7 separate regions of the Homo sapiens genome follow, and all the other regions are linked to region 2. Evidence: fine-mapped expression QTL. A gene starts in region 2. Each other region holds a variant in brackets. All regions are shown on one strand. Distances are from middle to middle.

Region 1 (4,070 bases), 24 kb after region 2:
TCTAGTTATCCACTAGCAAAAGTTTTGCTTCCTGTTCCCATAACCTCACGTTCTGCAGACCTAAAGGTCTTAGTTCCAGAGGGAGGAACGCTGCCACCAGGAGACACAACAACAATTCCATTAAACTAGAAGTTAAGATTTCCATCTGAACACTTTGGGGTCCTCTTACCTTTAAGTCAACAGACTAAGAAGGGAGTTATAGTGTTGGCTGGGGTTATTGATCCAGACTATCAAGATGAAATCAGTCTACTACTCCACAACGGAGGTAAGGAAAGAATATGCACGGAATACAGGTGATCCATTAGGGTGTCTCTTAGTATTACCATGCCCTGTGATTAAGGTCAATGGGAAAGTACAACAGCCCAATCCAGGCAGAACTACAAATGGTCCAGACCCCTCAGGAAGGAAGGTTTGGGTCACTCCACCAGGAAAAAAAACATGACCTGCTGAGGTGCTTGCTGAAGGTAAAGGGAATACAGAATGGGCAGTAGGAGAAGGTAGTCATAAATACCAGCTATGACCACTTGACCAGCTGCAGAAATGAGGACTGTAACTGTCATGAGTATTTCCTCCTTCTTTTGTTAAAAACATGTTTGTGCATGTATACACTTGTACTGAGAAATTATCCTCATTTTATTTCCTTTTCCTTTATCATGTGACATAAGATTAATTGACTTCATATCAGCATTTAAGTATTGTTAACTTTATGTAATAGTATTTGGATGGGGGTATTGGTGCATTTCCGGTTGTACGAAAGATAGTTGTATTATTTTAAGTGTAATTATGACCTTATTATTGTCTTTATTTGAAGATTATGTATGATCTCAGGAGATATATATGGGTTCAAGTTGACAAGGGGTGGAGTTGTGATAGTTAATACTGAGTGTCAACTTGACTGGATTGAAGGATACAAAGTATTGATCCTGGGTGTGTCTGTGAGGGTGTTGCCAGTAGAGATTAACATTTGAGTCAGTGGGCTGGGGAAAGCAGATCCACCCTTAATCTGGTGGGCACAATCTAATCAGCTGCCAGCAAATATAAAGGAAGCAGAAAAATGTGAAAAGGAGAGACTGGCCCAGCCTCCCAGCCTACATCTTTCTCCCATGCTGGATGGTTCCTGCCCTCTATCATCAGACTCAAAATTCTTCAGTTTTGGGACTTGGACTAGCTCTCCTGGCTCCTCAGCTTGCAGACAGCCTATTGTGACACCTTGTGATTGTGTAAGTTAATACTTAACAAATTCCCCTTTATATGTATATATATAATATATGTACATGTGTATATATAGGGGAGTGCACAGTATATTGTTATATGTGTTCTATTTTATCTTATTGTTCATCTCTTGCAGTGTCTAATTTATAAATCAATTATTTTCAGAGGTATGTATGTATCAGAGAAAACATAGTATATACAGCATTTGGTATTATCTGTGATTTTAGCCATCCACTGGTGGTCTTGGAAATAATTGCCCCATCCTCAGGTAAGGGAGTGCTACAAAGATGTGGACCAGGTGATGAGAACAAACGAGAGAGTGAGGGACACAGAAACCAGCATAACAAGAAGATTTTAGGAGAGGAATTAGTGTTTCTACAGTCTGCTAAGGACCAGAACCTTGGAAGAAGGGCCCAGTGTGAGACCTACAGAAACAGCTACTGACACAGAGACAATGGTGTAGCAAGGAGAGGACAGGGAAGAAATAACTCATCTTTTCTTTTCTCACATGCTCCAATTTCATGTTAATGCCTTCCAATGGCCTAACTCAACCGGAAGCTAACTAACCAGCAAGGTTCTGGAGCATGCTAACGAATCTGCATGAGTCAGCCTCTGGCAATATAGAGCCAGGAGAGGACAGAGAATGGATTTTGGAGAGACAAATGGAGAATAACCATTACATTACTACTATTATTCACAAATAGAATTATCTGAGAACTCTTTCTGAAAACATCTTTTTCATGCACAGTTTCAACTGGAAGTAAAAACTTACTGGGTTTTGTAAACTTAAGCATCCAAGATTTTAAAGAATCATTTCTCAGAGCCCTTTGGCTGGAACATTCCTAGTAGCATTTAGGAAGGATTTCCAGAAGTCTTGGGAGGCTTTGCAAGCCAAAATCTGGAAGAATTTGAGAGTATGCTTTTATTGACTTCCTTTGGGCATC[C/G]CCAGGTCTCTCATCATTTGGTGGTTTCCTGTGTCAGCACCAGTCTTACTATGCCTGGTTAGTCACTTGCTGATTGTTTTCAAGGAAGCCAGCCAGGCTTCAACAAAGGGTGACTACCTCAAAACAAATCAGCTGCACAGCAATAGGAACTCCTACTAATGGCTTCCCTTGAATTCACAAACTGTGTAGATTTTAGAATGAAGTAACATTTTCTCTTTCCAACTTTGCCATCCCTGTCTCTTCCTCCTGAACCTGAACTAACCCACAGACAAAAAAATGGAAGAGGACAGTGGTGGAGAAGCATGCTCTCTTTCCTGAAGCCTTAGATTAAAATTATACTCAAGGCCGGTTGTCATGGCTCATGCCTGCAATCTCAGTGCTTTAGGAGACTGAGCTGGGAGGATAACTTGCGACCAAGAGCTCAGGATCAGGTTGGGCAACATAGCAATATTCTGTCTCTGCAATAAATAAATAAATCAAATTATCTGATTGTGGTGGCACGTTCCTGTAGTCCCAGCTACTGAGGAAGCTGAGGTGGGAGAATTGCATGAGCCTGGGAGTTCAAGGCCACAGTAAGTTAAAATTGTGCCACTGCAATCCAGCCTGAGCAACAAAGGAAGACTTTAACTCTAAAAAAAAATTATAGCCAATATCAGAGTCTTGAATATTCACTGTAAACATCAGCACAAACAAAAGCCCGATTTCTAAATCTCATAGAAACTAAGAGTTTGAAAACTTGAGAGGACTGATATAAAGTTGGAAGTCAGTGTTTCAAAGGAGAGAGACAGAGTTAGCTATAGGAAAACAGAAAATTAGGAGTGGAAAGCAAAGAAGAGTCTTGTAAGTAACATATATAGCTGAACAATAAATACAAGTGAAATAGATTGACTTCTAGAATGGCAGTGTGGGAAACTCTGCTGAGCCACTCCTCAGTGAAACTGGTGAAAATTGTGTGTAAAGAAACAACCACTTAAATTCTCTGGAAATGGTCCTAAGGGCAAATGGTAAATAAAGAAATACCTATTAGAGGAAATTATGAATATCTGTCAAGAGAGGTGAGTCTGTGACATTTGAACTGAAACTACTACTTTCCTTGCCCCTCCCAGCTCAGTGAGGCAGAGACTCTACTCCAGACGCTGCAGCCAAGAATATGACTCTTTATATTCCTTAGGTGTCAGCTGCAGGGCTTTCATTGCAATAGGACATAACTTGAGCTTTTTTGGTCCTGCCCGTAGCTGTCTGTTGCTAAGGCTAAGTCTTAGGTGAATACAACTGGGAGGAGGAAGCTTCCTTCTCCCACCCAACACTTTCTTGTAAAAAGGAAGTTCTACCTTGGGTGTGGTGCATTGAGAATGAAACTACCTTTGCAAAAATTATGACAGTGAGAGAAATGTAACCTAGCTGACACTGCCATACTTCTAACTTAACAAGCTAACTGTGTTTGCTCATTCCTGGGTGTAGGCGAAGCTAATTGTGGAAGGAATTTAGCTTATAGTTTAACTTTAAATAAAGGATAATAGTCTCCCCCAAAAACTGACCCCCTCTGGGGACTGAAACCACCTTTGTAGGACTAATGAAAGGCCAAAAGCTTAGGATTATGAGTGGGGAATGAATTCTGGTAAGATGTAGATGTAGTTAAATGATAACCAGCCACAGTTCCGAAGATGACAAGATTTGTAAGTTCTTTAATTGCTCTTATAGATACCAACGGTATTGTCAAAACCCAATATTGGTCTTTGAGGTATTTTTCAGACTTTTGCACTTTGGCTGACCAGTTGATGCCACCTGGATCTGTGACTCATACCAGGGAACTGACTTAACCAATCCTGTGACCCCCTACCCTGAAACTGACTCAGCACATGAAGAACATTTTGGATACACCTATGATTTCATCCTGAACCAATCAGCAGGACC
Region 2 (4,070 bases):
TCTTATTTCAAAATTAAAGCAGATAAACATGGCATATTTTAAAGATGAAAACTAAGGGATACTTGTTAAAATAATTAGAATAGTGGGAGATCTGGAGCTGACTGCTTGGGAGAAAGAAAAGAAAGGGCTAGGAAAGACTAGATAATTTTTGCATTACCTTGATGTTGGATTGGGTAGGTTTTAGAGGTGAAGTTCCAGGCAGAATTATATATATATGTACACACACACACACACACACACACACACATATATATATATATACATATATATAATTTTTTAAACCAGCCTATAGACTTCCCTTACTGAAAGAAACTTCTAACCCTTGGGGGAAAGTGCCTGTCTGCCTATGTATTGAACTGGGTGCCCGGGAGCTGATTTTTTTCTTTTCTTCCAAGGAGGGGAACAGCGTTAGTGAGCAGGCGGAGACAGCGGAGCATGGCGAATGGATTTCAAGTGGAATGTCAGGGCCACTAATTCTGTGTCAGCTAACCTTTCTCTGCAGCCTACAAGAAGGGACGTATGTCTGCTCATTACCATAATCCAACACTGTTCCTCTGAGGCTTTAATTAAAAGCAGCAAGCAGAGGTAATTTTTTTTTCTGGACGTGCTTATTTATGGATGAGAGTGAATCCCGGTTACCTTGTTATACAAGGGGGTGGATTGAGTCACATGTGGCTCATGAAGTGAGCAGGTACAGGACAGGCCTAAAGTGTCCCCAGTCTGAAATACTGTGTGTAATGACTGGTAAATTTTCACTCCCCCTACCCCATATGACCCTTTTTGGGCAAGAGGGGGCAGCCCTGCTTGAGCACTCCTCAGTGGGCTCCCCAGCTGTTTAATCCGCAGCAATTTAGAAAGTAATGCCCCAATGCCCTTTATTAAGGTGTCATAAAGGGACATTTTCCTTCCTCTGGACACCCCATACAAGACTTATCACTAAAAAAAAAAAAAAAAAAAAAAAACAAAAAAAAAAAAACCCAAAAAAACCCAGGTATTTAAATTTTTAAACTAGCTTTGAACTAGCTGCATTGCTTAGTATTTCAGACTAATCAAAATATTCCTCCAAGTTTGTTGTTCCCTAATAATGTCACTGTTGGCAATTATTTATGTATGTTTTATATAATTAAAGTAGCAGGAAAGAGTAGATCTAATTCTTTTCCTGCAAAGCTGTTCATTATGGAATAATGTCAGTGACATCTATTTTTATTTTAATTTATATTAACCAGTTAACCTTACACGTGTGATTACAAGGTGTGCTTTTTTCCCCCCATTCCAGCTAACATAGCCTAAAACTTTGGTTAGCCTCATTTTCCATTCATCCTCTTGCATCCCCCAAATGTCAAGTGTTGGGCTGTATCTCCCAGACAGCAGAAATAAGGGAAAATATCCATAAAGTAGAAACTTTTTTATTCTGCATCATCTATCCCTGGTCATTTTTACCCCATACAAGGTAGACATCCTGATTTTTTCATTTCAAATTAAAATACATTTTAAAAACCCCATAACCTCTTATCTCCTTTTCAACGGAATCCTATTCTCCTCTTTTCAATTTCCTTCAATTCAGCGTTTTATTCCCCAATTTCTCTCTTCCTTTTAAAAATCTCTTTCACACAAGCATTTCATTGTGCCGGGAGGTCGCCCCGTCACTTCGGGCAACAGCAGGGACACAGTCATTAAAATGCAGTTCTACCTAACAATACGGCAAAAAGGTCCTCACTACGCCGCGCTAATAGCGGTCGGAGTCGCAGCGCCAGGCGCCACGAGCCTCAAGCCCATCACAATAACCGCTGGGCAAGAGCCTAGGAGCGCCCGCCCGCGTGCGGTCGCCTTTGCCACGCAACGTTTCACAGCTCCGTGCCCCGCTCTAGGCCCAGGTTCTTATCCGCCTGCCCTGGGAATATACCCCAGAGCCGGCGGGGCTTTCTGAAAGCCGGTCGCTGCTGCCCGCCACTGGCCCGTCCCTCTAGGCAGGCATTGTCTGGCGGCCGCGCGCTCCCCAGTCTCCGGCTTCTCCGGCAAAGTGCTCACCACCCGCTCCTCCTTTTGTACAATATTACTGGCAGTAGACAGCCCCTCAAGAATTATTTTTCTCTCTCTTCTGGATAATAAGGAGACGGAAGACAAAATGTTCTACTCTTTCCACCAAACTGTCTTCCTCCCATCCCCCTCCCACATCAATGCAAATAGACTTACCAGGAATAAGGTCAGTATAGAATCTCCCAAATAAGGCCACCTGGAACCGGGAAGATGCAATCGAGTGTTTCCTTTTGCCTATTGTATCAGTGTATTTCCATGTCAAGAGGTGTTGGTGTTGCCGCCTTTTAGGCTCTTCCTGAAGAGATAAGAGAGAGATGGAGAGATGGGGAGAAAAAGATTGGGGGGGTGGAGGGAGGGAGGGAGGGAGAGAGACGGAGAAACGGAGAGAGTTGTACAGATGGACCCGATGCAGTGACTGACTGGCACGCAGACACACACTTTTTGTTTGCTGCACATAATCTGCCCAATGACGCGTGACAGCCCACGTCCCCTCCCTTTAACTCTTTGCTGGGCCAGGCGCTCCCTCCGGCGCCGCCTGCCTCGCAGCTTTTTCCCCCGGCCTGCCCGCGCCCCGCAGATCCTGAGCGCCTACCCCGGGTGGCAACGCCTCTCAGAGAGCGTCCCGGCCCGCCTCCTCCTAAAGCTCGGGCCCTCTGGGACTGCTAGGAGGGGAAAATCGTTTCAGGATTGGAAAGGAAGGTACCAAAATGATTGGAGAGGGCCTTTCCCCGTTTCACTAGGCACTTGGAGAAGCTGTGACAGAGAGCTGGACACCCAGCGCGTGCGGACCCCGTGCGTATTTCCCCGGAGTCCGCGTTCCGTGAAAGGGAGAGGGGTGCGGTTAGCTCCAGGGATTCTCTAGCCCTGGAGCCACCGCTGATTTGCGCAGCTAGTTGCCTGGGGGTGATAAACGGGCGTCGTCTCTCTTCAGGAGCGCCAACACTACCAAGCTTCCCCCTGCAAAATTCAGAAAGGATGCGCTTTGGTGAGAACTTGGCTCAGCCTTCCCGTGGCTTGGGAGATGAGGTTGGAGTGAGAATGTCACCAGACCTCGGAAGGGGACATAACGGTACCTCCTAGTCCCAGGACACGGGTACGTGGGCGGAGGTGGGGTGTGGGAGGTTGGTGGGAAGAGCGCAGGTTACTGGACTCAAACAGTTCCTGTTTTTTTTTTGTTTGTTTTTGTTTTCGTGGGGTTTTTCCCCCCCTCTGCTTGGTGCGTTCTGCGCAGCCCCAGAGGGAGTCTATAATGGGTACTGTTGGCACTCTGAGGTCTTGGGGTTGGGGGGCAAGGGTGATTAAAAATAAAAATGATTACCAAGATGGGCTCCGGAAAGCTTTTCACATCCAGCGGGTGGTGGAGGAGGGGATGGAGTTGCCGAGGCCGTCTCGGGAGCCTCGTTTGTGCGCTAAGCCACTTAGAGGCGCTGACTTGCCCCTTTAGTGCAGCAGCTGATGCTAATGACTTGAGGTCTTTAACAGCCTGCAAGTTGACTCCTTCAACGGGGCTGCAACACCACGTCGCTGGGGAATCTCGGGCTTCTTTTTCACAGTTCAATTCTCTACTCCTAAAGGAAGAAAGGCCTTTGAGTGGTATAGACAGTTTCTCAACTCCTTCAGCCCCACACACACCACCACTACTTTGAAGTGGGCAATCTGTCAGCATTAGGATAAATCGGATTGTGTAGCTAGCTAAAGTGGAGGAGGCAGAACCACAACGTAAGGAGACAGCCTCGTTGTTGTTTTTCCTAGTGTTGAAATAATGTATTTGGGGAGTTGGCAAAGAGCAGCTTACCATGTTAGTTTGATCCTCTCCCAGCTTTGAGACCCTTCTCTGGAACTCAGTGGGGTATTGAGGCTTTGACAGCCTGGTGACTGCAGTCCCAGGAGGCCAGGGGAGGATTTTGCTGAGGAGAAACAAGTGCAAGGACTTTCCCATGAAGTTCATGTTCTTCCTTGTTCTCTCTCTCTCTCTCTCTCTCTCTCTCTCTGTGTGTGTGTGTGTGTGTGTGTGTGTATTTCCTTCTCTTTTC
Region 3 (4,070 bases), 350 kb after region 2:
CAGTAATGATTTCCATTGTAAAGGTGTGACAGTGGCTTTTACATTCTCTTGGATCAGAGACCCTACTGAGAATATGATCACAGCTGCAAATCCTATTTCCAGGAAAAACAAAATGTGCACTGGTACTCACCAAGAAAATATTACATACAATCGCAAGAGGGTTTAGATTTCCTGCAGGTCATTCATGCAATCCACACAGGCTTAACCTCAATTTTAGAATCTTTGTGGTATAGCATGGGCACAAATGAAAGAGTGAGGCAGTGTATATGTATTTAGTGTGTGTGTGTGTGTGTGTGTGCGCGCGTGTGCATGTGTGAGTTGGGAAGGAAGATAAAGCTTCAGAAAGAAGTTGGGTCTTAGCTTCTTCTTCAGGAGATTAAGATGGAAAAATATTTTCTAGGTAGAAGGACTGGCTTATGGAAAAGTAATGAGATGTGATTTGGCAGGGGAATTCAGCAAATCAAGGCAGTTTAGTGTGAATGACACAACTTTAGAGTGAAAGAATAAAGCTTTGGAAGAAGAGGCAGGAAAGAGGCTAGAGATTGGATCACAGAAGTTTTCGAATATTACATCAGAGTGACGGTCTTTTATTCTTGATGGATCATACAGCCCTAAAGGGGATGCACACTGTAAGACATGCCATTCACCAGAGAACATTTAAGGCCATATATTTGTTTCAGCCTGGTTGTTTATTGTTTATTTTCTCTTTTCTGTGTTTCTTTTTTTAAAATTAAGTATGTGCTAATAAACAAAGATCCTTATGTGTAACATATCATAGAATTTATTTTAATTTTGTAGCAATCCTGATGAGTAGATTTTATTTTACCTGTTTTACCAGCAGGAAAACTGAGACCTATAGAGGTAACTAACAGGATCAAGCCCACATAGATGAAAGTGGCAAAGCTGAGAATTAAATATCTTTTTTTTTTTTCTGACTCCAGGTTCTATACTTTTTCCCCTGGGCTAAGATACTGAGCCTAATAATTTTTTTTCCATAAAAATAACTGATAATCTCTGGCTAATGTAGAACACTACCTTAGAGCCAGTCAGATTATTAATTAAAATCATACTTTAAAAAAGTCCAAGAATTTTGAAGGGAATAGGATTTGTTTCTCTTTTCAGTAATCCCTTTACCCTTACCAGCCCTTATTTAGTTTTTTATTTTGGTAAAGAAAAAGTTGGAGGTAGGCTTATAGCTGGGGTTTAACTGAGCAATCTGGATAGACTGGAAAGGCTAAGACCTGGATTACAAGGTGCTGGGAATTTCTTTCCATCACAAATTCTAAGCAACAGACAAAATTGCAGTGCAATAAAGAGACAATAACTTAAGAATTTTAAAAAAATGTTTTAAGTCTTCTCCTACAGGAGTGAAAATATATAATGACATAACCACAATGTGAAGAAGGCATTGATGGCCAAGGAATAGCAGAAACTTGAAATAGTTGCAAATACAGTCTTCTCCAGTATCAAGTATGGCTTGGAAGTCTCTCTCTTAGCTTTGCTTTTTGGCATAATCGATAATTTCTAGATGGCCTTCCCAACATTTGAACCTAGTCAGCTCATCAGTTCTTATTGAAACTACATACCAATTAAATA[C/T]CACAGATTTTGTGATGATAGAACAAGGAGGAAGGGGCAATGCACAAGTGAATTTTGGTTGGGATAAGATTTAGAACACTGTCATGAGGAACATCAGGCTGAGGCATGGCACAAGGCGTGACACTTTAACATCAGATGAGTGCCACTTAAGGATATTCAAAATCTAATAGAAAAGGAAAAGATGATGATTGAAAACGTCAAAAGGGAAGAGGCTTCAGTGGATGAATCTGGTTTGGTTTGTAATTGTGCTCAGGGCCTGCTCTGATTATAATACAATACGACTCATCCCTTGGTAAAATAATTTATAATGAAGCTCGTGGAATCATACTGACAAGAAAGGAGGGAAACATCAAAGGCACCTCCTCATATGCCATAAATGACAGGAAGAACATCTGGAACAGAACATGCTGGGTGCTGTTTGTCTGTGTGCCCCCTTCTGTGAGGAGAACCTCTTATCCTGTTAACTTAGAGCCAGGCAAACCACAGCTCTGTTTACATGGAAGTTGCTGTGACCTTCCCGGCATGCCTTCCTGTCAGCTGGATCCCAAGCATAGCCCCATTTCACAGCCTTGCATCATTTTCTCGGAACACAGCCATGTGGAGAGGGAACAGCTGGGAAGGGATGGCTGAAAAAATCCCCAAGGATTCTATAGAGGGTCTAGAAATCCTCTTTTTACCAAGTAAACTTAAGGATCCTGAGGTTACTTTTATCAAACACAATGTCAGTGTGAGGAGAAAGAAAAACAACAACAAAATGCAAGTTTGAGTGATGTGACCACATTGCAGGGCAAAAAACTTTTGTAAACAAGGCTTAAAGTTTTGTATATGTTTTAGCATTTGGTTATGTGATGACACACATGTTTACCAAAGCCTAAGAACAGATACTCTTGATACAACAATAGGGCATAAAGTCCTGAGAAAATACATACATTCCCATTGTGTTTTAATCATTGAAATCCATATTTTAAGGGTTCTTTCAATGGTTCAGTGTCACTCTTCACATTGTCACTCATTTTTTTAAAATCTCATTTTTTAAAAAAATGATCCTTTAGAACTGTTGATGTATCCGTAATACAAAATGAAAGTATGTTTCAGTTGTTATCATGTAATTTTATCTTATTCCTCTATATTGAAATAACCAATGACTAACACATATCTCAGAGATACATGAGGCAATTTTTCCCCTCTATTTTGGCTCTTTAAATGAATTTCATTGCTGCTTTATAATTCACAAGCTGGGTGTTATTGTGAAAATTTTTAATCTCTCTGTGCCTGAGTCATCACACCTACAAAATAGAGATGATATCAGAATCTACTTCACACAGTTGTTTGAGAATTAAATAGAATAATATATGTAAAATACTTAGCAAAGTGCTTGTGACATAGAAAGTCCTCAGTAAGTGCTACCTATAATAATCTTTATCATCATCATAATTCATTCAAATGAATATCATTTAAATAATGATAGCCTCTCTTCTAGTGGGTCAAGGACACACTAATTTTAAAATAAGTTTTATGTTTATGATAGCATTTAACTTCTGTTATTAATTTCACAGTTATCACTACTATCTAATTTGAGAAAACAAAAAATGTCAGCACCCTTCAAATTTAGTTAGTAAGGGAGTTATAGATAATGGGGAGCTTTTGGAAAACTTATCTCAAACTCTAAAAATGTTCAGTTTTAACTTTCAGGCATGATAAAATATTTGAATTGTGACAAATCTGAAAATCTCAATAACTAAAGTTTGTTATTTGCAATCATATTTGCAATCATATACTTCATCTAACCTTTAAAACTAATGTCAACACAGAGTTTTGAGGTTTTAAAATTTGTTTATTCAAAGAAAACCTGGAAGCGTGTATCCCACTGTGAAATGCTCAAAAAAATATGCCAAGCAGAGGAAGTTGAAAACAATGTTTGTGAATTCTGAATTCATCTTGTTTGCTATGTTTTACGGCACCAGATTCTCAAGCTTTTTGAGAAATGCTCAGAGATGAGTGGAAAGTGTTTTAAAATCAGAAATGACATGTGTCAGTGTCTATCTTCCATAGCAGGGAGACTTCCCTTTGTGTAAAGGGCAGCCAAGCATTGTCTTTGGCTCTTCTTGCACGCATCCCGATGACATAAATGGGAGGGTCAGATTGAAATCTTTCCAGACTTGGATACATCATGTTTTGAACTCTTTAGATCTAGATATTATGATAATTTCCAGGCTTAGAATTAGAAATAATGAGAATTAAATGCCCTCATTAGGTACTTTTCTAAAGGTTTCAAACATAACTTAATTGGGCCAACTCCTGATGTAATAAACAAGGAAAGTTTCCCACATCCCTGTGTAGAAGTATACTGCATCAACATGATTAATATTTTCATGTTCCAGAAATTCTTTTACTTTGGCTTACCATGACCTTAGATTCCCTAATAGTCACTTGTTTACATATTTTTTCTATTTTAAATTATTTTATTTTATTTT
Region 4 (4,070 bases), 38 kb after region 2:
AAAACTACAATAATCAAGAAAATGTGGTATTAGCAAAGAAACAGACTCATACATCAGTCTAGAGTAGTCTTGGAACAGGATAAACAATCAAGAAGTAAATCCATATAGGTATAACTATTTGATTTTTGGCAAAGGTGCAAAATAAGTAAATAGAGAAAGAACAGGTTTGGTTTCTTTGAAAAAATAAATGGTGTTGGAACAATTGAACACCCACATGCAAACAAAACATAACAAAAGGAAAAATTAAACTTTACACCTATATCTTTTTTTTTGTTTGTTTTTAGAAACTGATATTTATTTTTCGTCAACGTTATTTCCATGTTGCTTAAGAGCCTGTGCAAGAACAGCTTAAGACCATTCAGTGGTTGCTCCTACGCATTCAGTGGCCTGAGTGGTGGGAGCTGCAGACCAGTCTTTTGTGGCAGGCCAAGCGCTCCAGTCTTCAGTAGGGAACTGCTGAATAGGCACAGAGTGCACCTGCACATCTTTAGACCAGTCTGCAACCTCAGACTGAGTAGCAGTGAACTCAGGAGCTGGAGCAGTCCATTCACCTTGAAAATCCTCCTTAGTCACAGCGTTTTCAGCAGCAGCCTGCTCTTCTTTTTCAATCTACAGAATCTCTGTAGAAGTAGAGATCAGGCATGACCTCCCATGGGTGTGTATGGGAAATGGTGCCACGCATAGGCAGAACTTCCCGGACCAGTATCCGTCACATCAAACCCACTGAGTCAGCTCCCTTGTTGTTGCATGGAATGGCAATGTCCACATAGCGCAGAGGAGTATCTGTGTTACACAGAGCAATGGTAGGTAGGTTAAGATAAGATGTCTCCGTGAGAGGCTGGTGGTCAGTCCTGGGGTCAGTAACCACAGGAAGTCATGGCTCCCGGAAGGCTGCCTGTATCTGGTTAGTGAAGGTTTCAGGAGTGAAGCGGCCAGCAATTGGAGTGGCTCCAGTGGCAGCAGCAAACGTCAGCTTGGCCCTCTAGCCAGTATTCCTGGAGGATATAACACTGACATCAGCAGGGTTTTCAATGGCAACAATGGCACGAGCTGCCAGCAGAAGCTTCTCCCAGGTCCTCTTCAGATTTATGATGTAGATCACATCACTTTTCCTTTTATAGATGTACTGTTCCATTTGGAAGTCAAGATTGGCGCCACGTAAGTGGGTTCCTGCTGCAAGGAATTTAAGGACATCCTCCTTCATTTGCAGGACATCAAGGGCTCCAGACATTGTGAAAGTTTCCCTTTAAGTTACGACGGGAATTCACAACAAAGCTGTATGGACCCTTCTGTAGGTAGCGCGGAAAGGCTGTATCACTATTAATGCAAAGTAGATAATAGATCTAAATGTAAAACCTAAAACTATAAAGCTTTTAGAAGAACACATGAATTGGGGTTAGGCAAGATATCAAAGAGTTATCAGACATGATATCATAAGTGTTATTCATTTATAAAAAAGATAAATTGGATTTTAATAAAAATTTAAAACTTTTTGCTCTCGGAAGGACACTGTTAAGAAAATGAAAAGATAAGCTATGTACTAGGATAAAATATTTTCAACGTATATATCCAACAAAGGACTTCTGTCCAAAATAGAAAAAGAACCCTCAAAATTCAACAGTAAGAAAATAAAAAGCTCAATTAAAATATAGGTAAATGATTTGAACAGATACTCAACAGTGAGGATATATGGATACAAATAACCACACAAAAGGATATCTACTATTTTTCATCATTGTAGATATGAAAATTGAAACCACATAATTTTCAATATTGAATAGTTAAATTTAAGAATATTGAAAATACCTATTGCTGATGAGGATGCAGAGAAATTTTAACTCTCATACATTCTTTATGGGAGTTACACAGGCCTTGAAACTGAACAAAATTGTCCCCTACTTCAAAATTAATTGGAACTGGTGACTCTTTATCCCTTCCAATTTTTCCCTTTTGGAATGAAAAAGTTTATACTGTCTATATTTAATGTCTGTGCCTGTCCCACCATTGTGTTTTGGATTCAGATAACTTGCTTTCTTGTTTTACATGTCCATAGAAAGACAACTATTTTTTCCCAGAATGGATCATACCTAGTGATATGGTTTGGTTCTGTGTTCCCACCCAAATCTCATGTTGAATTGTGATCCTGACTGTTGGAGGTCAGGACTGGTGGGAGGTGATTAGATCATGGTTCAGGAAGTCTGGAATAGGTTAGCAATTTAAAAAAAAGTTAAACATACACTTACATAACCAAGCAATCCCATATTTTTGGTATTTACCCTAGAGAAATGAAACATATTCACAAAATCTTATTAACTAACATTCACAGCAGCTGTATTTGTAATTTCTAAAAACTGAAAACCAGCATAACATCCTCAGTGGATGAATTGATAAACCACTTCGGTATATACATATAATGGAATACTTTCTACTCAGCAAGAAAAAGAAAGAAACTGGTCTC[G/A]TATACAATTCTTGGATGCATCTCAAAAGAATTAAGCTGAGTGAAAGAAGATAATCTGAAGAAGTTACACACTGTTGTTTTTATTTAAAGCAACATTCTAAACAAAACACTGTAGTACTGGAAGGTGGCAACAAATGTCTAAAAATATGGAAGTGGATATCCTATTCTCATTGCCACTTGTGGGAAATTCAAGATATTTATGGGGTGATAAAAGATATGGGCATGGGGTGGCAGTACCACATGCAGGCTTTATCAGGACAATGCCTTGACAGATTTGTATATTAGAAGTCTCTCACTGCATGAGACTGTCCAGAGGCTATGGTGTGGGGGCCACCACTCTGAAGGGAAAGAAGACAGAGTACTTCTGTGGGAGAGGGCTTAGGAGACAGAACTTATGTGTCTACATGATGTCACTCTAAGTAGCCCACAAGAGATTCTCTAGGTGAGAGGGTTCCAGAGCATAGCAGCAGTTTGGGATCTTTACAGATTTGGAGTTTATCCTATGGCTAGCAGATGCTGTGTGCACTTCCATGAGGCATGCAAAGCAAACAGGCTCTAAACATCTAAAATATGCTTATTTGTGGAATATTTAAAACAATGAGATATACGAAAATTTGAGTTTGGCCCTATTATGCTTATAAATTAATGGGTCCTTGCCTGCTGTGAAGAAGTAAACAACCTAGGCGCCAATATTCAGAGGTCATAATTAGTGTGATTATATAACAATTGGTTAATGGGTAGAGGCTGGAGGAAATTAGGGTACATAATAAAAAACAAAACAAAACACCCTAGATTGCCTTGAAGAGACTGTGGGTAGAAATCGGAATGTTACAGGCAATTCTGTTAAGGAGTCAGGAAATGAGGAACATGTTATCGAGATTGAAAACACTTTATACATAACTGAGGAATTGTTATATAGTGGCAGAAAACTTGGCTGTATTGTCTTCTGTAGTTGAGGAGAAAACAGAGATTAGAAACAATAAAATTTGATGGGTAGCTAAAATGATTTCCAAATAAAGCATTGAAGGTGCGGCCTATTTTTTTTCCTGCTTAGTAAAAAGCAGTAGGAAAGAAATAAAGTAAGAAAGTTAAGCAAAAAGGAATTTGCACTTGATAAATCAGGAGGTTATTGGTCTATCCAGATTGTAAAGCCTGCTAAAATGAGGAAAGTCACTGTCAGGAAAGTGTGCAATGTAGAAGACGCCAAGGAAATGGTTGGATAAACTTTTATTGATGCACTTAGGTGTGTGATTAATGGATCCACTCAGCCATCTCAGTGGAAGCCAGGGATAGAGATGGGGTTATCCAGGAAAGATCTATGGAGGACTCTCTTGTCTAATGCCATAGACCCTTGTGACATACACAGGAGATCCACAAATTTATTGAGAATGTCATATCAGCAGGAACACTCCTAGCTTGGACTGAAAGGAATAGAGAAAGGACAACATGAGAGAAAGATATTGAGCTTCCAGAACTACACTGGCAGGAAACTGCAACTGCAAACATGTGCTCCCACTTAAGCAGAAGGAATAATAACTCTCTTTATTATTCCTTTAGAGGAGACCGTGCATGTGGAACAGAGGCCTGAGGAACTGCCACAATTTCAGATGGC
Region 5 (4,070 bases), 260 kb after region 2:
TCCCAGTTAGGCTGCTCGGGGGTCAGGAGTCAGGGACCCACTTGAGGAGGCAGTCTGTCTGCCCGTTCTCAGATCTCCAGCTGCGTGCTGGGAGAACCACTGCTCTCTTCAAAGCTGTCAGACAGGGACACTTAAGTCTGCAGAGGTTACTGCTGTCTTTTTGTTTGTCTGTGCCCTGCCCCCAGAGGTGGAGCCTACAGAGGCAGGCAGGCCTCCTTGAGCTGTGGTGGGCTCCACCCAGTTCGAGCTTCCCGGCTGCTTTGTTTACCTAAGCAAGCCTGGGCAATGGCGGGCGCCCCTCCCCCAGCCTCGTTGCCGCCTTGCAGTTTGATCTCAGACTGCTGTGCTAGCAATCAGCGAGATTCCGTGGGCGTAGGACCCTCCGAGCCAGGTGTGGGATATAGTCTCGTGGTGCGCCGTTTCTTAAGCCGGTCTGAAAAGCGCAATATTCGGGTGGGAGTGACCCGATTTTCCAGGTGCGACCGTCACCCCTTTCTTTGACTCGGAAAGGGAACTCCCTGACCCCTTGCGCTTCCCAGGTGAGGCAATGCCTCGCCCTGCTTCGGCTCGTGCACGGTGCGCACACACACTGGCCTGCGCCCACTGTCTGGCACTCCCTAGTGAGATGAACCCGGTACCTCAGATGGAAATGCAGAAATCACCGTCTTCTGCGTCGCTCACGCTGGGAGCTGTAGACCGGAGCTGTTCCTATTCGGCCATCTTGGCTCCTCTCTTAGGGGGTTTTAAAAACACTATCACAGTGCTGGGTACATAATTGATGCTCAATATATACATAAGCATTCAAGTTGTTACCTTGTTAGTGACACATAACATTTTATGATTTATTTATTTCTAGTTTAGATAACGGAACAAATCTGTTTGAGTATGGTACTATATACCCTGATAGACAGTACCTCTCTCAGGGTAGATACAAATTGCAAATTAGAGTTGGGAAAAAGTGGCCCAAGCAAGTGGCACAAAAAGTCACTTGCAGATAAAAAGCTTTCTGTGAGTATGTTACAGTGAAACTTTCAATGAAGATATGTCCAAATGCAGTTAATCAGAAACCAGCCAAACTAGCCTAAACATTTATGGATATTACAAACATTCTTCCAAAAATTTTTTTTCTTCTGCTCAATTTTGTGCTGTTTTAAATGATTATATGTAATTAATTTTCAAGGAACTTAGTTGAGCCAAATGTGAATCTTTTGAGGTTTTCCTATTGCTAGCAATTGCTTCATTAAGAATATGAAATAGGCACCTGGTTTTTTTAATGCTACTGTTGAGAATACAGTGAATGAGTCCTATTTATAACTGAATTAAAAGCTTAATTAAGTTTATGAGTGTTTTAAAACTGTATAAAGTTAATGCTAATGTATTTATTAAAAGTAAAAATTATTAATACATTTTTCTTCTTTGCAACAAAGATTAAAATGAAAAATGCTTTAAAATGATTGAATGAATACATAATCAATTATCCATTGCTTGCTGACTTTCTGCCTAGCATTATACAAGTGATAGAAAAAAATAGAAAATATAAGTGTAGTTTTTACCATTG[G/T]TTAGTACAGTGGTAGAGTGTAGTACCTTTAGTGTGGTACTACTAGTGTAGTACCATTGTACTAGGTGGGAATGATTATAAGCACAAAAAAGGTGATTATAACCCATAGTGCAATTAATAATCAGAACTTAAAGTGAATTAGTTTAAATATTGTGCAGTAATTTTTAAATTAATTGTTTTCTAATTATTTCATGTGTTAGTCTTTTCTTCTTCCCTTTTACGTTTAATAAAGGATTTTTTTTATTTCTTTTGCATTATTTCCCAGTCCCTGAGACCAACTTGAATACTGTTGAAATATTTCACTAATTTCTCCCATCAGGAATTATACCTAAGCTTTTATGAGGACATAAATTACCTTGAAAGAAAAGGAAACTTTTGGAGAATTAGAAAAATGTGAGAATGTTTTGATTGTTCATTTAGGTTTTGGTTGTGAGATGAAGGAGAAAACTTGCATAGGAAGTACCTAAGCAGAGTTCTAATGCAGTGCAACCAGTTTTAGTGCTAGGTTGTGAAGGAGAATAGTAATGGTTTTGAAAGAGAGTAGCTAAGCTCTGATGACAGGAGGTCTGAAAATAAGACAGTTAAATAGCATTTTGTCATTTAAAAATTTATCTGAATAGAGATCAATTAAATATTCTGCAAATAAGAATGCAACTAATTATATCATTTGTAGTACTTGTGTAATAGTGATTAAAACATCTGAACCCTTTTAAAAAGTGGTATTGTACTGATAGTAAAAATAATGTGTAGTAACTCTCTGCATTGAGAACTATGAATAATATCTCAAAATTAGAATATATGACTCCTGGCTAGAGGTTGTACACTTGCTAAATCCTAATTAATTCCATTTTTTTACAACTTTGGAATGGAATCATAGTTTAAGGTGCTCTTTTGTTGGAACAGGCATTTATTGTTTCAGAAGAGAGATTCCACTGGGAGCGGAGTCATTTCCTTAGAGTACATTAGCCTAAGTGTCACTCTTTAACAAAGCTATGCAACAGCTGGACCACAATAGAAATTTACTATATTTTATTGCAATGAATGTGAAATATCAGTGTTCCTTCCAAACACAAGTAGCCAACAACGTACACACAAATGGGCAGAGCTAACCATTGCTAATTCATCTTAGATTTCCAAGTCCTTTGATTCAAGTATAAAAGTGTTTTAAAATTTCTTCACATTGCAATAGCTGTATCCAAAATAAATAAGACTTTCTTCTCACTATCCCACATGCCTTAGCCAGGCAATTATATTAATAAATGTCAGTGTACTATCTTGCACTTTGCTTCTTCTTCTTAATGTTTTGACTCAGGCTTCACCCTAGTTAAAGCTCCTTCTGGCATTTTCTCCAGTTTTATGGCTCCCTTTTTTTTTTCCAGTTCAGCTGGCCTTTGAGCTCCTCTTTTGATGTTCAGTATGTTTCTCTAGACAGTCTGGCCCCAACTCTTTGTCACTAATTTATTTTCGTATTGTGATCCATGATATACCCCCACAGGCTTTAAATAATTTCAAGAATGCTGTTTATAGTTGAGCAAATTATAACCTGCATAAAGGTGGAAAATGAGGGAGTAATGGAGAGGGTGGGGGTGGGGGGACTGCTGAAATCCAGCCTGGAGGAAAGGGTGCTTTTTCTAATTGGTCAATGGTAGTGCTTTAAAAAAAAAAAGTTGGGGGGCGATGACATGTAATTTTTAAACTCTCCACCTTTGTAGAGGTCATATACTTTAATTTTAAGGGCGTGTTACAAACCTATCAAATTTCTTAGCAAAGGCCAGCATTATTCAGTTGTTTTTTTTTTTTATACTTTAAGTTTTAGGGTACATGGGCACAACGTGCAGGTTAGTTACATATGTATACATGTGCCATGTTGGTGTGCTGCACCCATCAACTTGTCATTTAACATTAGGTATATCTCCTAATGCTATCCCTCCCAGTTTTCTTAACAGAAGGCCCAAAGTCAGTTCCTGAAAGCAGACAAGGTCTCTTTCCAATGACTAGTGTGTATCCTTCATGAAAGAACTGCTGAGTAGACAGTTTTTTTTTTTTTTTTGAAACTTGACTACTTGGAGGAGTTTTTTGTCCTAACATCTATTTTAAAGTTTTATTTAAAACAAGTCTATGTATTAAACTATTTTCCAGTTCAGATCTCTTAGACAGAAATAGTAGCAATGCATGGCGTTTCCTTAGTGTTTATCATATATCAGGCATTAAGCTTCATGCACATTCACATAATTCTCCTGGTAACCCTCTGGTAAGCTGCTATTACTTTCCATATTTTATAAATGATGAAAATAAGGTGAAAGAGTCAAAAGAGTCTTAAATGATAGGTTTGGTGTTTTTTTTTTTTTGTTGTTGTTGTTGTTTTAGACAGGGTCTTGCTCAGTCACCCAGGCTGGAGTATAGTGGCATGATCTTGGCTCATTGCAACCTCTGCCTCCCAGGTTCAAACGATTCCCATGCCTCAGCCTCCCAAGTAGCTGGGATTACAGTCATATCCAACCATGCCCGGCTA
Region 6 (4,070 bases), 320 kb after region 2:
TCTTTCAGCTCGTAGAAAATGTATTCATTCAGTGTCCATTTACGACGCTCCCATGTAACAGAGACACTATGCTGTACTCTAAGATTATAAGGATAAATCAATCATAGATGTACCACAAAGGAGCTCACAATTGAGGAAGCATGGAATTGAAAAATAAACTCACGAGGGAAGACAATATTTTTGATGAAGGGTGTTGGAGCAACTTTGACTCCTGCCTCACAGCATACACAAAAAGTGAATCAGAGATAATCATAGACCTAACTGTAAAATGTGAAACTACAAAGCTTATAGAAATAACAACAGGGAAATATCATCATGGCCTGGGGGTGGGCACAGAGTTTTTAGACAGGACAAACATGTATAAGATAATGTATTAATTGTTAATTAAATATACAATACAATTGAATACATTAGGTTAGTACAAAATTAATTGCAGTTTTTGCTGTTGAAAGTAATGACAAAAACAGCAATTAATTTTGCACCAACCTAATACAATATAGTACAATATGCATTACAATTATGATACAAAATAATGCAATATGATCCACAAAAGCAAGTAAATGAATACTTCACAAAAAAGATATATGAATGGTCAATAAGCACATGAGAAGATGCTCAGCATCATTAGTCATCAGGGAAACATGATTTAAAACAAGAAAGAGGTACCACCATACACCCACTAGAATTGTTCAAATAAAAATGACTGGCTTATATGAGGTATCTAAAATAGCTTTGAAAAACATTTTAGTAGATCCTAATAAAGATAAACATATACTTACTCTATAGTTCATCAATTTCACTCCTAGGTATTTACCCAACATTGAAAACAAGAGTCCACTAAAAATTTGTGCACACGTTCCCACAGTAGCTTTTTTCACAATGGCCAATAACGGGAAGCAATCAAATGTCCATCAACAGAAGCATAGACACCAAGTTGTATTATATTCACTTGATGGAAAATTACTCAGTAATAAAACTCCTGATACATTCAACATCATAGATGAATAACAAAAATATGCTGAACAGATGAAAATAGGCATAAAAACACAGATGGTATCATTGTATTTATAAGAAGTTCAAGCATAATAAAAACTAATCTATAGGAATAAAAACTAATCTATAGGGATAAAAACTAAAAAAAAGTTTTAGGGAGTGATGAGGGTTAGGAAGTATTGATTGGAAAGAGATCTTTCAATGGTAAAGGAAATCTATACCTTGATTTAGTGTTGGTTACACAGATGTTCCATTTGTTAGAATTCTTAAAACTTTTACATGTAAGCTCTGTACATTTTACTATTCATAAGATATATAAATAAAAAATACATTTACTAGTACAATGTGATGAGGAGCATAAAGGGGGAAATGCAAAAATAAGCAAAAATAAGGAGTAATTATGCCTTATAGTCTGACTGAAATACTAAAGGGCTCAGAATTGAAGTCTGTAATTTAATCTGACTCACTTGGGAGCCCATGTTGGGCCCAGACACAGAGGATTGGACTCGAATAACAACAGTATTTCACTCTACCAGGAGCATGGACCTAGCTCAATGACTGGATACTTCTTACTTTTTCAGTCCAAACAATTACCCAATAACTGTCAGAAAATTCTGACCTTAAGACTGAAATCTGTGATGAGGCATGACTACCCCCATTGGTAGAACACATTGCCTTCGTTAGGCCTAAAGTTTGAAATCTGCTAGAAGGGTGGGGAATCTTCGGTTTTGGAGCTCATTTCTGTTGTTTTTCTGGTGCAGCCTGGGAATGCTAAACTTTAGGCCATAG[G/C]GCAAGCCTCATCTGTTTAGCCTCATTGTTAAGGGAAGGGCTGTTCGGCTTTATAGTCTCTCTGGGAAGGGTGGGGATGCAATTCTTTTATGCTTTACTTGTTAATTGTAAATACAGGCCAGTGGTTGAATACTAGTTATAAATTCAAAATCAAACCTAACAGATTACAATGAATAAGTCCAAGACAACAGACTGAATAGTTTATAGCGTTTTTAGAGAGATGCAGGAAAATAAAGAAAGATGAGGCCTACACAGACCTGGATAAATATTTGAATAAGCACTATCTTCTTGATATCCATTTACATTTCTTTTTAAGGCCCCTTTATATCTCCCTGTGTTTTGGGTATGCTTCCTCTTTGTCTCCTGAAATACTCATACCTGCTGCATTTCTGCTGTTAAGGGCTCAATTTACTGAGCCCAAATATTAGCACATTACCACTATGATATTACTGACCTTATATAATAAGTTTCGGTATATGTACCATTATTATTCCTTATTTACAGATGAAGAAACAAAGGCACAGAGAAGGTACGTTGCTTGTGCAAAATTACACAGAATTCAAGATTTGAATTTGATAATCTAATCATGGGAGGCTTGACCATCAAGCTAAGCTAATTGTCATCTCCCCACTCATGCCCCTTTCTTTTCCTTAAGCACCAACTTTGTAACCCTTTGCATATGGTGTCTAGTGTAAGCCTTGCAATGACTTTGAGAGGACTTTGAGAGGTAGGACTTCAAATCTCTATTTTATGGATTTAGAAACATCCAAAGCACTAAGGTTGAAAGTGTTGGTTAACTTGCCCTAGATTGTGCAGCTAGAAAGTGGTAATGACACCTATATTAGAACCCTTATCTACTGCCACGGCTGTGAGTCTTTCTACCTAAAAGACAATCAGCATAGAATTTCTTCCAGGGCTATTTGTGTTGAAATAAAATTTCCGGCATCTGAGGAAGTTATTTGGGAAGATGGTTTAGGGTGAAGACCCCTCAAGTGACACTACAAAGTGACCACTGTTCCTCTTCTTGTGAGGCTGCTGCTGTGCACATGGAGACTACACAATGAAGAATTGGGCCTACCACTCCTTCTGCTTTCTCCTATGCACATTGCCCGGTAATCACTGTCTGCTTGACATATGGTGATGGTTATCTAAACTTAGCATTTTACATCTGATTGCCTGGCTAATTTATAACATCACCACATCACCACTAAATTCATTTGGAAATCTTCTAAATTTGGTTCTTCTTTAGTCTGACCTAGACAGTTCAAACAAGGTGGCTCATTGACTATAATACCATCAGTCTTAAGAAATTGCTGTATGAAAGGAGTTTTTAAATGTATCTTTGGAATCCATTCCAGCATATGATTTACCTAATAAGGTTTTACTTAAGCTAATTCTAAAGTAGTTTGCATTTTTTGAGAAAATAAATGTACATGGGGAGAACCCAGAAATGAGTTGGAAGTCAAGAGAGAGCCAGGTAGTGCAGATATCATTGAAACAATGTGGAATTCACACATACTGTGTATATATTTTTCAAAATCTTGGGATTTCATTACTCCTTTTCTAGTCAATATAACATTTTAACTTTCTGGAAGCCTCATTTCTCTTATTTTTAAAAATCAGGACAATGAGTCTGTTGATTTCTTAGTTCTTTTCCTGCAAAACATTTTATCCTTTCTATACTATAATATACTGTGCCTACATATTTTGAGGTTTTGAAATATATAGAACTGTGGGTTCATCATTTCACTCATTCATCTGATATTCATTTCACAAATATTTATTGAGAACCTACAAACGACAGGCACTGTGCCGGTTTGGGGAATGAAGAGGACACAGTCCCTGCCCTCAAAGAGATCTATACATAGAATTGAATAACACTGTAAAGATGGCTAATAAAAATCTCACAGGTGACAAACTTCCTGGAGATGACAGATCACAATTGCTCTTGCTTTTATTACAAAATATAGAAAAGGTCTCTTTACTTCACAAGCCAACAAGAACAAGTCTCCTCTCTAGCAGTGCTCTTACCTTTTGTCTGACTCCCTTGGAACTGGGAAGGTTTTTGTTTTTCTTTTTTTCTTCTTCTGCCTTTTTTTTTTTTTTTGGTACATAAATGAATAATATAGAAGACAACCCATAGCCAGTTTGTATTCCCTGCTGTCCTTCCAAAGCTTCATAGCCCAAAATAAAGGTGCTGCGGAGGTGGAGAACCCAATTTCCATTCTAAGTTTCACACAGTGGGTTTCAGTCAATTAAAATTTCTGTTCCTAAGATACAGTTGCTTA
Region 7 (4,070 bases), 82 kb after region 2:
TCACTTGTGAAGCTTACTTTTGTTGAATATAAAATTCCGTTTTGAAAATTCTTTTCTTTAAGAATGTGAATTTTGGCCTCCAATCTCTTCTAGCTTGTAGGGTTTCTGCTGTTAATCTGATGGACTTCCCTTTGCAGGTGACATGGCCTTTCTCTCTGGCTGCCCTTAACATTGTTCCTTTCATTTTGACCTTGGAGAATCTGATGATTATGTGTCTTGGGGTTGATCTTCTCATGGATTATCTTACTGGGGTTCTCTGGATTTCCTGAATTTGAATGTTGGCCCTCTTGTTAGGTTGGAGAAGTTCTGCTGAATGATATCCTGAAGTATGTTTTCCAACTTGGTTCCATTCTCCCCATTTCTTTCAGGTACCCCAATCAGTCTTAGATTTGGTGTCTTTACATCATCCCATATTTCTCAGAAGTTTTGTTCGTTCCTTTTCATTCTCTTTCTCCTATTCTTGTCTGCCTGTCTTATTTCGGATAGATAGTCTTCAAGACCTGAAATTCTTTCTTCTGCTTGTTTTATTATGCTATTAATACCTGTGATTTTATTGTGAAGTTCTTGTAGTGTGTTTTTCAGCTCTAACAGGTTGGTTATGCTTCTCTGTAGACTGGCCATTTTGGCTGTCAGCTCCTCTATTTAGCTTTCTTGCACTGGGTTATAACATGCTTCTTTAGCTCAGTGAAGTTTGTTATTACCTGCCTTCTGAAGCCTACTTCTCTCAATTTGGTCATCTCACCCTTACCCCGGTTCTGAGCACATGCTGGAGAGGTGTTGTGGTCATTTGGAGGAAAAGGGGAACTCTGGCTTTTTGTATTCCAGCATTTTTGCATTGATTCTCTCTCATCTTTGTGGGCTTATCTACCTTTGATCTTTGAGGTTGCTGACCTTTGGATGGGGTTTTTTGTTGAGTTTTGTTGTTGTTGCTGTTTTCTGTTTGTTTGTTTTTCTTTTTATAGTCAGGCCACTCTCCCATAGGGCTGCTGTAGTTTGCTGGGGATCCGCTGTAGTCCCTAATTGCCTCAGTTTTTCCTGTACATGGAGGTATCACCAGTGAAGGCTGTGAAACAGCAAAGATGGCAGCCTGCTCCTTCCTATGAAAGCTCTGTCCCGGGGGTTACAGACCTATTTCCCGCCCCAATGCTCCTGTAGGAGGTGGCTGGAGACCTCAGTTGGGAGGTCTCATCCATTCAGGAGGAATGAGATCAGGGATTTGCTTAAAGAAGTAGTCTGGCTGCTTTTTGGTAGAGCAGCTGTGCTGTGTTGAGGATAACGTTCAGCCCTCAATTGGTTTGGGCTCTCCAGGGCCCACAGGCTGAGTGGGCTGAGAAGCCTGAACAGCCAAGTTGGTGGCCTGCCTTGCTTCTCCGGTACTCTGTCCCAGGGAGAAATTAGAGCTTTTTTGGCCCCCTAGAACACAGGCAGGGGTGGCCAGAGGCCCTGGCTGGGAAGACCCAGCTGGGAGGACCCGCCACAAGGAGTAGCGGATTATGGTCCTACTTAAAGAAGCAGTCTGACCACATCTTGACACAACAACTCTGTCATGCTGGAGAACCGCCTCTGCCTGTGTCGGCTTGGACTCTCCAATGCCTGTCGGTTGGAATGGCTGAGACATAGTCGTACAACCAACTCAGGCAGTGGCCCTTCCCCCTCTCCTGGGCACTCCATCCCTGGGAGAGATCAGAGCTCTATCTGTAATATGTGTGTGGGGGGGTGGCTGGAGGGCCTGACTGGGAGGCCCTGTCCAGTGAGGAGGAATGGATTGGGCCTGCTTTAAGACGCAGTCTGGCCAAAATCTGGCAAAGCTGCTGTGCTGCACTTTCCTCATCTGGACTATTTGGACTTTCCAAAGCCCACAGGCTGGAACAGCTGAGTTGACCAAAGAGCAAAGATGGTGCCTGCCCCTCCCCCCTGTGGCTCCATTAGGTCTCAGGCAGTCTCCACCCTGTTGCTGGTGGCTGGTTGGAATTCCAAGGCAGTGTGTCTTATCTTTTGAAGTGCTGTGGAAGTGGGGCCTGCAGAACAATG[C/T]TGCTTGGCTCCCTGGATTCTACCACCCTTCCAAGGGGTATGTGCAGAACTTCTGCCTTGCCTAAGTTGTAGACACATTTGTTGGAGATCTCATCTTGGCCCCTTAAAATCCTAAAATATATGGAACCACAAGACTGAATAGCCAAGGCAACCTTGCACAAAGAGAATTGAGCTGGAAATATGAAAATATGACACCACCTGACATCCAAATTTACTTCAAATCTGTAGTAACCAAAACAGCATGGTAATGTTATATAAACAGATACATAGACCAATAGAACATAATAGAGAAACTAGATATGAATTCATGCATTGCAGCCAACTCATTTGCAACAAAGGTGCCAAGAACATGCAATGGGTAAAGGAGAGTCATTTCAATAAATGGTGCTAGAAAAACTAGATAACTATATGCAGAGGAATGAAACTACACCCTATCTCCCTCACCACACAAAAAAGTCAAATCAAAATGGATATAAGACTTAAAGCTAAGAGCTGAAACTATGACACTGCTAGAAGAAAACATTGAGAAATCCTCTGGGACACTGGCCTAGGCAAATAACTTTTGTGAAGGACCTCAAAAGCACAAGCAACCAAAGCAAAAATAGACAAATGAGATCAAATCAGGCTAAAAAGCTTCTTCACAGCAAAAGAAACAATCAACAAAGTGGAAGGACAACCTGCTAAATGGAAGAAAACATTTGCAAACTATCCTTCTCACAAAGGATTAATACGCAGAATTTATAAGGAGTCCAAACAATTCAATAGCAAAAAAACAAATAATCCAATTAAACAAAGGGCAAAATATCTGAATGGACATTTCTCAAAAGAATACATAAAACTGGCCAACAGATATATGAAAAATTCTCAATATCACTAATCATCAGAAAAGTGCAAATCAAAGCCACGATGATATCATCTCATTAGAATTAAAATGGCTTGTATCAAAGACAGGTATTAACAGATGCTGGAGAGGATGTAGAGAAAGTTGAACCCTCATACACTGTTGGTGGGAATGTAAATTAGTACAACCACTATGGAGAACAGTGTGGTGGTTCCTCCCAAAAACTAAAAATAGAGCTACCATATGATCCTGCAATTCTACCACTTGATATATATCCAAAGGAAAGGAAATCAATATATCGAAGAGATATCTGCACTGTTATGTTTACTGCAACACTATTCACAGTAGCCCAGATATGGAATCAGCCTAAGTGCTCATTAGTGAATGAATGGATAAAGAAAATGTGGCATATATACACAATTGAATATTATTTAGCCATAAAAAAATACAATGCTATCACTTGCAGTTACATGGATAGAACTGGATGTCATTTTATTAAATGAAATAAGCCGGGCACAGAAAGACAAACATCACATGTTGTCACTTATATGTGGGAGCTAAAAAAGTGGATCTCATTAAGATAGAAAGTAGACTTGTGGTTACCAGAGGGTGGGAAGGGTAGCAGGAAGCGGGATGAAGGGAAAAGGAAAGAATATAAATGTATTCTTACATTTAAAGACTGTTTTAAGAGCACCACTGAACTGTACACTTAAAAATGGCAAATATGGTGCATTTTATATGGATGTTTTACCTCAAAAAATTTTAAAATAAAGAAATAATTTGCTGGCCAGTTGTGGTGACTCATGCCTGAAATCCCAACACTTTGGGATGCTGAGATAAGAGAATCACTTGAGGTCAGGAGTTTAAGACCAGCCTGGTCAACATAGCAAAAACCCATCTGTATTTTCTAAAAAATTATAAAATAAAAAAGAAAGAACTTCCCGCCAAGACCCAAGGCGGGTGGCTAGCTGGTAATCTTCAGCTTTTAGCTTCATAAGGATTAGCTTCTGCTTTGAAGAGGTGACTCTAGTCAGTGGCTGAAAAAGGCAGTAGTGTAAGGGATTAGCCATTGCTATCCAATGTGAGACCCTTGCAATGTACAATCTTTGCTCCAGGTCTTTTGGCTGGTCTGGCAGGGAATGTGTCTTCAGCATCATCGTCTGAAGCTCTCTCTTGCTCAGTCTTGTTTTCTCAGCTT

Alleles and levels. Alleles are on the strand shown, and positions count from the first base shown. SD is a standard deviation of normalised expression in the study named. Not every link is listed here.
For the expression in left ventricle of the gene that starts at base 2,454 in region 2, allele T in region 3 goes with a lower level than allele C (small effect, 0.22 SD a copy in GTEx).

The links. PIP is the estimated chance that this variant, and not a neighbour inherited with it, causes the effect.
Region 1: its variant is the best candidate, but not a certain one, in a credible set for the expression of PRDM8 in blood mononuclear cells (TOPMed, PIP 0.70).
Region 3: its variant is the best candidate, but not a certain one, in a credible set for the expression of PRDM8 in left ventricle (GTEx, PIP 0.63).
Region 4: its variant is the best candidate, but not a certain one, in a credible set for the expression of PRDM8 in lung (TOPMed, PIP 0.56).
Region 5: its variant is the best candidate, but not a certain one, in a credible set for the expression of PRDM8 in whole blood (INTERVAL, PIP 0.54).
Region 6: its variant is the best candidate, but not a certain one, in a credible set for the expression of PRDM8 in thyroid (GTEx, PIP 0.52).
Region 7: its variant is the best candidate, but not a certain one, in a credible set for the expression of PRDM8 in whole blood (TOPMed, PIP 0.72).

The regions. Positions count from the first base shown.
Region 1 is chr4:80,171,731-80,175,800 of GRCh38, reverse strand. No RefSeq gene overlaps it. Among named protein-coding and RNA genes, the nearest start is that of PRDM8-AS1, 24 kb to the left of the region's middle. The variant C/G (reference allele first, on the strand shown) is at 2,157.
Region 2 is chr4:80,195,887-80,199,956 of GRCh38, reverse strand. It overlaps PRDM8 (PR/SET domain 8), which reads right to left and starts at 2,454. Exons shown (of 4, transcript NM_001099403.2): 1 at 2,194-2,454. It overlaps PRDM8-AS1 (PRDM8 antisense RNA 1), which reads left to right and starts at 2,613. Exons shown (of 6, transcript NR_183912.1): 1 at 2,613-2,829; 2 at 2,969-3,130. RefSeq lists enhancers at 2,611-3,226, 3,227-3,844.
Region 3 is chr4:79,850,477-79,854,546 of GRCh38, reverse strand. The region is part of intron 1 of PCAT4 (prostate cancer associated transcript 4); the gene reads right to left. Among named protein-coding and RNA genes, the nearest start is that of PCAT4, 25 kb to the right of the region's middle. The variant C/T (reference allele first, on the strand shown) is at 1,597.
Region 4 is chr4:80,158,290-80,162,359 of GRCh38, reverse strand. It overlaps the pseudogene RPSAP39. Among named protein-coding and RNA genes, the nearest start is that of PRDM8-AS1, 37 kb to the left of the region's middle. The variant G/A (reference allele first, on the strand shown) is at 2,459.
Region 5 is chr4:79,934,379-79,938,448 of GRCh38, reverse strand. The region is part of intron 16 of ANTXR2 (ANTXR cell adhesion molecule 2); the gene reads left to right. Among named protein-coding and RNA genes, the nearest start is that of PCAT4, 110 kb to the right of the region's middle. RefSeq lists an enhancer at 1-452. The variant G/T (reference allele first, on the strand shown) is at 1,559.
Region 6 is chr4:79,873,232-79,877,301 of GRCh38, reverse strand. No RefSeq gene overlaps it. Among named protein-coding and RNA genes, the nearest start is that of PCAT4, 48 kb to the right of the region's middle. The variant G/C (reference allele first, on the strand shown) is at 1,783.
Region 7 is chr4:80,113,420-80,117,489 of GRCh38, reverse strand. No RefSeq gene overlaps it. Among named protein-coding and RNA genes, the nearest start is that of ANTXR2, 42 kb to the right of the region's middle. The variant C/T (reference allele first, on the strand shown) is at 2,032.